Linked DNA regions of Homo sapiens. Changing the gene in region 1 together with any one later gene gives a genetic interaction. Each region holds a gene or a part of one and is shown in the gene's direction. Other genes may lie near its edges.

Evidence for each region.
Region 2: changes in KIF14 (region 1) and TCOF1 together harm fitness more than expected from each alone (negative genetic interaction), as found in Homo sapiens cells (one large-scale study listed by BioGRID).
Region 3: changes in KIF14 (region 1) and NCAPD2 together harm fitness more than expected from each alone (negative genetic interaction), as found in Homo sapiens cells (one large-scale study listed by BioGRID).

Annotation. Positions count from the first base shown.
Region 1 is NC_000001.11:200,596,659-200,600,309, reverse strand, and holds part of KIF14 (kinesin-like protein KIF14), read left to right. Parts: intron 1-196; coding exon 197-260; intron 261-1,888; coding exon 1,889-2,073; intron 2,074-3,651. UniProt on the Homo sapiens protein: Microtubule motor protein that binds to microtubules with high affinity through each tubulin heterodimer and has an ATPase activity. Plays a role in many processes like cell division, cytokinesis and also in cell proliferation and apoptosis.
Region 2 is NC_000005.10:150,367,621-150,371,271, forward strand, and holds part of TCOF1 (treacle protein), read left to right. Parts: intron 1-223; coding exon 224-297; intron 298-1,095; coding exon 1,096-1,282; intron 1,283-1,908; coding exon 1,909-1,982; intron 1,983-3,651.
Region 3 is NC_000012.12:6,514,548-6,518,198, forward strand, and holds part of NCAPD2 (condensin complex subunit 1), read left to right. Parts: coding exon 1-40; intron 41-225; coding exon 226-373; intron 374-2,280; coding exon 2,281-2,478; intron 2,479-2,817; coding exon 2,818-2,952; intron 2,953-3,048; coding exon 3,049-3,136; intron 3,137-3,231; coding exon 3,232-3,412; intron 3,413-3,651. UniProt on the Homo sapiens protein: Regulatory subunit of the condensin complex, a complex required for conversion of interphase chromatin into mitotic-like condense chromosomes.

The DNA of each region.
Region 1 (3,651 bases):
TCATAGGAATGGCAGGGACCTCAAGAGGATACTGAGTATTTTTCCGACCTTCCTTATGAATAGAGCAGCCCACTCCCAGATTATCATATTTTAAATATTACTAGGTAGTTGCCTAATTTTCATTGATTGTCTCTTGACTCTCAATCTTATACATCTGGATGTTTTTAACTCTGTTATTTTCTTTGTCTTTGGAAAGAGTGTGGAAAGAAAAGTTTGAACAAGCTGAAAAAAGAAAACTTCAAGAAACAAAAGAGTTACAGGTATTATTTCAACTTTCTAAACTGATTAGAAAATAAAAGAAATATGCCAAGAAATAAATATTGCCAATATGCCAATGCATGTAAATTTAATGTTTCAAATACTTACTATATACTGACTCTGTACAAAGCAATACCGTAAGGAAAATTAATATAAAGAAATGTTAAGATCAAGACTGGTTGCTTAGAGCCAGCCCATAAACTAGTTGGAAAGTTAAAGTATGAATAAACCATCTTGTTATATTTACTTTGGTTCTACAAATATATATTAAATGTCTATGCTTTTCAGGAACAGGGGAAGCCAAGGTGATTAAACACAGTTTCATCCCTCAGAGAGCTTGTGATCCAGAGAGAGATTTACAAAACGTAAATAGAAGACTGAAATGCAATGTGATTTCAGTAGATTGAGCCATAAGCAATTGCCATTTTTGTAGGTAAAGCATGGTTGAACACTGGCAGTTTCATATGGTTGAACCTAATGTAATGAAAAGTATTTCAAGTGATTGGTAGTGGGGGAGTACTATAAGAATTCAGGAGAAGAAGGGAAAATTCCTTGCGCATGGCCAATCCAATCTCATAAAAGAGGTGGCATTTGAGATGGGCTTTGAAGTTTGGGTAAGATTTTAATAGGAAGAGAAAAGGAAGAGCACATTCTTGGAAGAGAAAATTCTCTGAAAGTAAAGGTAGAAAAGTTTGAGTTGTCTTTAGAAAGGGTACGTAGATCAGTTTTACTGGAAGCAGTTTATATGAGATCATAAGGAGATACAATTGGAAAGATATGTTATGATTAGTTTATGAAGGACTTGATTTCCAGGCCAAGGAAATTAAGTTTTATCCTGTAGGAAGTGAGAAGCTGTTAAAAAGTGACCAGGGAATTTACATTTTGAGAGCACCCTTTCGAGAGAATTAACCTGGCATAGGATATAAGATGGATTGAAAACAGAAGCTGTTGACGGTGATCAAGAGGCTGCTTCAGTAGTTTTGGTGTGAGTTGACAGGGGCCTGTGGTGAAGGCAATGAAGATGCAACAAAACAAACTGATCTATTCTAAAGACGGTCAGTCAATAAGAAGACACAATTTGGTGATGATAGATTGATGTATGAGTAGACTGAGGATGGTGAAGGACAAAGAAGGTAGGGAGGTCACAAAGGAGAGATTCTAAGGAAGGAGGAGAGAGTCTAAAAAACCTTTATGGCCGGGCACGGTGGCTCACGCCTGTAATTCCAGCACTTTGGGAGGCTGAGGCGGGTGGATCACCTGAGGTCAGGAGTTCGAGACCAGCCTGATCAACATGACGAAACCCTATCTCTACTAAAAATACAAAAATTAGCCGGGCGTGGTGGCATGCGCCTGTAGTCTCAGCTACTTGGGAGGCTGAAGCAGGAGAATCGTTTGAACCCAGGAGGCAGAGGTTGCAGTGAGCCGAGATCGTGCCACTGCACTCCAGCCTGGGTGACACAGCGAGACTCTGTCTCAAAAAAATAAAAATAAAAAAATAAATAAATAACCTTTAATTTAGTGAGACTTCATATAGAATTGTTTTAATGTTTAATATAGACCATTTGTTTTAGGTGAATTTAACAATTTCATACTGTGATTAAGATTAATTTCTTTTTCTGACTTCTACCAGAAAGCAGGAATTATGTTTCAAATGGACAATCATTTACCAAACCTTGTTAATCTGAATGAAGATCCACAACTATCTGAGATGCTGCTATATATGATAAAAGAAGGAACAACTACAGTTGGAAAGTATAAACCAAACTCAAGCCATGATATTCAGTTATCTGGGGTGCTGATTGCTGATGATCATTGGTATGTTAATCCTCTAAAAAAAAAGAAAAGGCACCTGTTCTATATCTTGATAACATGTGGTTTCCTTCATATGGCATATTCGTTGATACTGATCGTTTGGTAGAATTCTTCAAACCCATTGTTTAGTCAGGAAAAACATACATTCTGAGTGTGTTATAAGGATGATAGGTCAGTTACTCTCAATATAAAGTACAGTGTAATGCTCTCTCTGTTTTTGTTTTGGCATACTTGATCTGTTGATTGAAGAATAATTTATTTTCTTGCAATTATAATGATGCACATGCAAGTAAACTATCTATCTTACATAACAGAATTTTTGGTTGGATTGACCAATTTAAAAATGTTACTTTATGTGAATTTTGTTCATATGAATGGAATACTTGTATATATTGTTGGAATGATAGCGTATGTAAACTTTTTTGACTCTGCATTGTGTTTCCAAGATTTGTGTACATTGGTTCCTGTTTTATTTTCACTGCTATGAAGTATTCCATTGTATGAGTTTATCTCTTATAAAGTTTAGGAAGTGCTTTTAAATTGTATGTCTGAGAGTAGAGATACTAGGTTGTAGAATATGTGCATATTCAACTTTAGTAGCTAATTTCAAATTATTTTCCAAAATGAATTTTTACTCCCATTGGCCTTGAGAATACCTGTTACTCCACATCGTTGCCAATACTTAGTACTGTCAGACTTTATGCCAATCTGATGAACACTAAATAGTATATCATTATGGATTCATTTTACATTTCTTTGATTAATAATAAGGTTGAACATCTTTTCATGTGTTGATTGGCCATTTTTGTTTACTATTGTAACTTGCCTCTTCATATCTTTTGTTGATTTTTCAACTGATTTGCTTATTTCTTAATAATTTGTAGGAGTTGCCAATCTTTCGTGAGCTTTTTGGTATAAATATCTTTTTTTCTAACGTGTAACATCTTTTTACTCTCTCTGGTGCCTTTGATTGATTGAAGTTCTTAATTTTATTGTAGTACCTGGCATCAGTCTTTTCCTTTATGATTGTCAGTTTTTATGTCTTAAAGAAAGAATGTTCTGGCTGGGCGTGGTGGCTTATGCCTGTAATCCTAGCACAGGTGTGTGGGCTCAGGAGTTTGAGTCCAGCCTGGGCAACATGGTGAAACCCTGTCTCTACTAAAAATACAAAAAATTTTCTGGGCGTGGTGGTACCTGCCTGTAATCCCAGCTACTCAGGAGGCTGAGGCATGAGAATCGCTTGAACCTAGGAGGTGGATGTTGCAGTGTGCCGAGATCATCATGCCACTGTACTTCAGCCTGAGTGACAGAGCGAGACTATGTCTCAAAAAAAAAAAAAAAAAAAAAAAAAGAGAGAGAGAGAGATAGAGTGTTCTGGCCAGGTGCGGTGGCTCACGCCTATAATCCTAACAGTTTGGGAGGCTGAGGCGGCAGATTACTTGAGACCAGGAGTTCAACATCAGCCTGGCCAACATGGTGAAACCTCATCTCTACTGAAAATACAAAAATTAGCCCGGCATGGTGGTGGGCACCTATAGTCTCAGCTACTTGGGAGGCTGAGGCATAAGAATCACTTGAACC
Region 2 (3,651 bases), on another chromosome or scaffold:
AGACACATAGCTTCATGTTACCATCCTCTTCTCTCTTGCTCCTGGTGGACCTGGCTGATGCATCACAGAGCTCATTCCTGCAAGTCTGGGCTCAGCCTCAGATCCTCATGCCAGCACCAGGCAGCCAATACCAATAGAATTGTTAGGTGAGATGAAACCTGTTTGCCATTCATAGATGAGAAAAGCTCATCTGGCTCCTTTAGCAGATGTTTGTTTCTTGCAGCCCCAAGACTAGCATCTACCAACTCCTCAGTCCTGGGGGCGGACTTGCCATCAAGCATGAAAGAAAAAGCCAAGGTGAGTGGGACTGCCTTCCAAGCTATTGCCTATGGGATTTAAGGTGCCTGGTAGGGGACAGTCTTACATGTCAGAGAAGGATAGGGTTGTGAGTAATTGCCCCACCTGGATTCAGAGCTCAACCTGTGTCACCAGTTGTGGGATCTTAGTCCCTTCACCTCTCTGGGCCTCAGTTTACTTTTCTATAAAGATAAGGATGATGCCTGCTGCAGTGGGCCACTGGGCACATTCTACACCTGGGGTAGGCGATTTCTTTCCTCTTTCATGCCTGCGTTCACCCGTTCACTCAACAGATCTTGACTAATACCTGTTATGTTCCAGGCACTGTGCTAGGTGTGGAGGCACCGTAGTGATCAAGACATCTGTGGTTCTGAAACTCTAAAAGCATTTTCCAAACTGGAAACTGCTCAAAAAACAAGGTGTCATTTTCTAATAATCCAGAAAGCAGAGTTAGATACATACATGTATAAAGAATTGTGCCTCTGCGATTGCCTGGAGCATTAGCAACAATGTCTCAAAGTAATTATGAAGTAATGATAAGATCAACAACAAACTGCTACTTACCACTTAGTAAATAACTACCATGTCCCAAGAACTGGGATTCTGTTTTCTCAACACCTCTGGTGAGAGGAGGTGCTGTTTTTAACCTCACTTTAAAGATTGGGAAACAGATTGAAGGGGTAGTTTACCCAAACTCACACAGCTAAGAAGTGGTAAGATTGGGTTCAGATGCAAGTGGCCTGTGCTCTTAGTTCACCATGCCATACCAGATGTGTCTGTCACTCTTGTTCTCTGTAGGCAGAGACAGAGAAAGCTGGCAAGACTGGGAATTCCATGCCACACCCTGCCACTGGGAAGACGGTGGCCAACCTTCTTTCTGGGAAGTCTCCCAGGAAGTCAGCAGAGCCCTCAGCAAATACTACGTTGGTCTCAGAAACTGAGGAGGAGGGCAGCGTCCCGGCCTTTGGAGCTGCTGCCAAGCCTGGTAAGAAGTCCCCACCTCTAGGAACCTAGTCCCCAGAACTTGGGCTGGTGAGGCAGGCCTAGGCATTGCTTTAAGTTCTGGGACATTTCTGGAATCAAAAGTTTGTCTCCAGGACAGCCAGGTTCCTGCATCTTAGGACTTTTCTCATCACCTAGACGAGGGAGGGTCAGCTTACAGGGACCTGGCCTCAGGCTGAACAGCCCACCTGGTGGTTGGAGCATTTTCTGCTTTATGACTCCCTGGTGAGTTACAGGGACAACTGGCAGCTCAGAGACTAAACTGAAAGGCCTGATTTGCCTCTGTTTCCTATGTAGAGTAGACATCTGTCTGGCCTGCATCAGTGGATATGATGGTGGATGGAGGTTCTGTAGACTGTCAGGTGCTGGTGCATATTTGTTGGGTCCCCTCACAGCCCTTCCCAGGGCCTCAGAGATGTGTGGGAACATAGGGATGGTGATGGTACCCACCTCAGAAGGGGGCTTCACAGCTCAGTGCATGTGAGGCACACGAGGGGTGAGCGCTCAGCACCTGGCTTTGATGAGCAGCTGGTTTGTGGGGAGGTGCTGGGGAGGGGCAGGTGAGGCTGGAAAGGGAGTCCCTCAGTCCCCTCCGTGTCCGATCCTCAGGGATGGTGTCAGCGGGCCAGGCCGACAGCTCCAGCGAGGACACCTCCAGCTCCAGTGATGAGACAGACGTGGAGGTAATTGCCACCCATCCCTAGGAGTTGCCCTCTCCCAGCCTCTAACCCTTCCAGGAACCTGTCTGGGGCTTCAGACACCAGTGGGCCCAGATGAGTTCAGCAACTGTGGTAGGGTGACCAGGAGCTGGAAAGGCTGCAGCCGGAGAGGGGCAGGGAGAGGAGTCTGGTGCTGCTTGCTGCACTCTGAGTGTGAGATCAGCCCTGGGGGCAGGAGAGGGACACCCTCCTGCCTGTGAGACTAGACAAGCCTTCCTGGGAGAGGTGCCCTGGAGTAGGGCCTCAAAGCACAGTGGGCTTCACTGGGAAGGGATGTGGAGGAGGCAGGGCATTCCAGACAGGAAATGGGGCAAGAACAGGGCCCAGAGGCAACAGTGTGGCTGTCGTGGTCTGGCTAGGGCTGCGGCTGCTGAGAGGGTTCTGGGCCAACTGGTGAATGCCAGGCCTAGACACTTGGCTAGAGTTGGGCAGGACTCTTGGGTTTGTGAACTTTGACCTGGAAAAGGTCTCCACAGGTTACTTTTTATTGTGTACCTACTAAGTGGCAGACCTGGGGAATATAGTGATGAGCAGGACAGGCAGAGTTCCTGCTGCCATGGGGCAAGGGAGCGTCCCTCAGATATTTAATTGGTGATGGCTGCTATGAAGTGGAAATGTAGAGGGCCACGCAGGGCAGGAACCTGACGTTGATGAGTAGGCGTAAGCAGAAGGAATGGCATGTGCAGAGAAGGCGGCAAAGAGAGTTTGGTGCTTTTAAAGAACATTGATCTTTTTTTAAGACAGTCTCACTGTGTCACCCAAGCTGGAGTGCAGTAGCGCGATCTTGGCTAGCTGCAACTTCCACCTCCCGGGTTCAAGCGATTGTCGTGCCTCAGCCTCCCAAGTAGCTGGGATTACAGGTGCACGCCACCACGCCTGGCTAATTTTTGTATTTTTTGTGGAGACAGGGTTTCACCATGTTGGCCAGGCTAGTCTCGAACTCCTGACCTCAAGTGGTCCATGTGCCTTGGCCTCCCAAAGTGCTGGGATTACAGGCATGAGCCGCCACGCCTGGCCAAAACCTTGATCTTTAAATGAGAGGGAGAAACCAGGCACGGTGGCTCGCACCTGTAAGTGCAGCACTCTGGGAGGCCAAGGCAGGAGGATCATTTGAGGCCAGAAGTTTGAACCCAGCCTGAGCAACATAGTGAAACCCTGTCTCTACAAGATGTTATTTTTTAAAAAAACAAATAAATTATGGGGAAAGTGACACAAGATGAAGTCCTAGGTAGACAGGGGCCAGATCTTCTGTCTGACCTTGAGGACCACCATAAGGAATTTGGGTTTTATTCTAGGGGCTGTGAGAAGCCATGCCAGCAAGGAGAGATGGCCTGATTTGCATTTAATAAGATTGCTGGCTGCAGCCTGGGTTGGAGGGCAGTGCAGAATAAAAGCAGTAAGACCATGTAGGAGACTATTGGAGTAATACTGATACTGGCATAAGAGGCTGGGGGCTGGGAGACCAAGGTGTCCACAGTTGGAAAGATGTTTTCAAGGGAAAACCAGCACAAGTCAGGGATGAACTGATCTGGTGCCCAGGGAACTTCTCACTTTACTGTGCTGCCTGGCCCAGTAACCCTGTGAAGGTTGAAAGCTCACCCCCATCTACCCCAGGCCTTACCAAGGGCTGCCC
Region 3 (3,651 bases), on another chromosome or scaffold:
CTGACTATGGAATGAAGAGCATAGTGGGAGAGATTGTAAGGTGACTCTTCCTTCTCGAAGTTTCTCATGCTTATTTTCCTTGGGGAGGGAATAAAGAAAGATTGGAAATACATTATCTGTGCAACAGTAGATTCCTTCAGATATTAGATACCTGTCTTACCTTCCCTTACTGGGAACTGAATAATTGATCTATGTTGCTATGGCTGTGTTTTCTTCCCTGTGTAGAGAGATTGGACAAAAGTGTCCCCAAGAGCTGAGTCGAGACCCTTCAGGGACAAAGGGCTTTGCAGCATTCCTGACAGAACTAGCAGAACGTGTCCCAGCTATCCTGATGTCCAGCATGTGCATTTTGCTAGATCACCTGGATGGAGAAGTAGGTGGTCCACTAGGGGTCACTGAGCTTTTTCTGGGGATTTTAAGTCCAGTGTTGAAAGGCTGTTTCTTAACAGAACAAGAAAGTAGCTTTGACAAGTTGTCTAGATTTATCATTGTGACATTTCCTTTCTGTAGAGAAGCAGGTCAAGTTTGTTGAATAAGGAGCTCTTTATTAATCTGTTAATCTTTCAATTCACATTGCTTTTATCCAGTTCTGGTAAGGGAGATGACATTTCTGCAGCTTAAGTCTAGTAAGAGCAACTCAGCTTTGATTTTTTTTTTTTCTTGGAGGTAGGATCTGGCTCTGTCACCCATGCTGGAGCATGATCATAGCTCATTGCAGCCTCGATCTCCTGGGCTCAAGCAATCCTCCCACCTCAGCCTCCCAAGTAGCTGGGACTTCAGGCACATACTACCATGCCTGGCTAATTTTTTTAGTTTTTGTAGAGGTGGGGTCTTGCCATATTGCCCAGGCTAGTCTCAAACTCCTGGTCTCAAGCAACCCTCCTGCCTCAGCCTCCCAAAGTGCTGGGATTGCAGGCGCTACCATGCTTAGCCTTCAGCTTTGATTCTGAGTCCCATCTGTTCCTCAGGATAAAGCGTCTTCCCACCAGCTGGCTTGCCTTGCTTCCTCAAACAATGAACTTTCTCAAATCAACCCATGTCATCTCTCTCAATTCTCTTTTATGCCTGAATGCTAACCTGGCTGATTCCCATACTGATGTTGGGCACTCCTAGGTGAATGTCAAGGACAAAGACAGTCCACTTGTTCATCTCATTTACTTTAACTTTTTGTGCAAGACCCTATTCTCTGGTTCTTAGCCTGGCAAAACCTTAACCCTGCTCTCCACTAGATTATGTATTGGACTTGCTGGCACTCTTAAGGCTGATTTCCATGTTTCTGTCTCATTTTCTGTCAGTAAAGCATCTGAAGGAGAGTGGGAGGGAAAGGAGGGGATATTTATTAGTAAGGATTAAAGACTTTGAGGCCAGGTGTGGTGGCTCACGCCTGTAATCCCAGCACTTTGGGAGGCTGAGGTGAGTGGATCACTTGAGGTCAAGAGTTTAAGACTAGCCTGGCCAACATGGTGAAATCCCATCTCTACTAAAAATACAAAAAAAAATTAGCTGGGTGTGGTGGCGCGCACCTGTAATCCTAGCTACTCGGGAGGCTGAAGTGGGAGGGTTGCTTGAACCTGGGAAATGGAGGTTACAGTGAGCCGAGATCGCACCACTGCACTCCAACCTGGGTGACAAAACGAGACTCTGTCTCAAAAAAAAAACCAAAAAAAACCACACAGACGGGCGCGGTGGCTCACGCCTATAATCTCAGCACTTTGGGAGGCCGAGGAGGGTGGATCACGAGGTCAGGAGTTTGAGACCAGCCTGGCCAATATGGTGAAATCCTGTCTCTACTAAAAATACAAAAATTAGCTGGGTGTGGTGGCGGGCACCTGTAATCCCAGCTGCTTGGGAGGCTGAGGCAGGAGAATCACTTGAACCCGGGAGTCAGAGGTTGCAGTGAGCCGAGATGGCGCCACAGCACTCCAGCCTGGGCAACAGAGCAAGACTCCGTCTCAAAAACAAACAAACAACCACAATAACAAAGGCTTTGAGACCTCAGCTGAAGGGTAGTTAATAAATGCTTTTCAAATGTGTGTTGGTGAGTGGATGTGATTTTTTTATTCAGCTACTACCATGCTTTCCTGTGTGAGCCCTATGAGGAAAAATTGGTTTTGGCCCTTGTTCTAGCATTCTCTGAGCAACAAGTCCTCTTTGGGATTCAGCTTTCTCCTGTGACCTTGGGAGTGAATACCTAGGCAGTTAATGGAAAAAGTTATGGCCAAGCACAAGCAAGCTTCGCCTTGACTAAAGGTTTGACCCCTCTATGCTTCTCTCTCTTAGAATTACATGATGCGTAATGCTGTGCTGGCAGCCATGGCGGAGATGGTGCTGCAGGTTCTCAGTGGCGATCAACTGGAAGCAGCAGCCCGAGACACCAGAGACCAGTTCTTGGATACTTTACAAGCCCATGGCCATGATGTCAACTCCTTTGTGCGGAGCCGTGTTTTGCAGCTCTTCACCCGAATTGTCCAGCAGAAGGTAACCAACTTCTATGTGGCAAAAACATATGGTACCTCTCCATATACCAGTGTAAAGAGGAATCCAGTGTTGAAGATAAATATCTGCCCCAAAGAGGTCTAGAATTCACATTTTTATTATCAGTAGTAAAAGTCTTCCTCTACCAAGGACGAGGATATCTGGCTCCCTTTAAGGACTGTAATGTGTCTTACCACTACAAGGAGTACTCCTAATCTATATTCTGTAGAAAGGGTTTTTAGAGTGAGTGGGTAGCTCAGTTTAGAGTATACTTAAAGATCATCTTGAACAAAATGGATGATGTGGGACTTGAGCAGATTCTTCTCTTCCTACCCTACACAGGCTCTCCCCCTGACACGTTTCCAGGCAGTGGTGGCTTTAGCTGTGGGACGTCTGGCAGACAAGTCAGTGCTAGTATGTAAAAATGCCATCCAGCTGCTGGCCAGTTTTCTAGCCAATAATCCTTTCTCCTGCAAGGTAAGTAGACTTGGTCCACCAAAAGAGAAGGAATTAAATGGAAACAGGGATGAAATTATGTCATTTACTGACCCTGCTATTCATTTTACCTGATAGCTTAGTGATGCTGACCTTGCCGGACCACTGCAGAAGGAGACCCAGAAATTACAAGAGATGAGGGCCCAGAGGCGAACTGCAGCAGCTTGTAAGTAGTTACTGCCTTGGAGTCCTAATGCCAGACAGGCTTCTCCTTGCAGTCAGAAACTCTAGTGAAAGAGACTAAGTGACACTCTCATTTAGCTGCAGTGCTGGACCCAGAGGAGGAGTGGGAAGCCATGCTGCCAGAGTTGAAGTCTACCCTGCAGCAGCTTCTACAGCTTCCCCAGGGAGAGGAGGAGATTCCTGAGCAAATTGCCAATACAGAGACAACTGAAGATGTGAAAGGACGCATCTATCAACTGCTTGCCAAAGCTAGTTACAAGTAGGCAAAAGAATGGGATATTCTTCGTGATCTGTTTATGTTTAGAGTTAACCTTTGAGAAACTTACATAATGTGTCTTTTAAATTAACTGCACACAGATATGCTGCCACCAGGTGATGGTAGATGTTTTCATGTAGTAATGGTCTGACCATAGGCCTAGTCCACAATTAAGCATGTGTTTCTACTTTATAAATGTTTAAAAAAACTACTGAAACAATTAAATGTTAACAGTATTATAA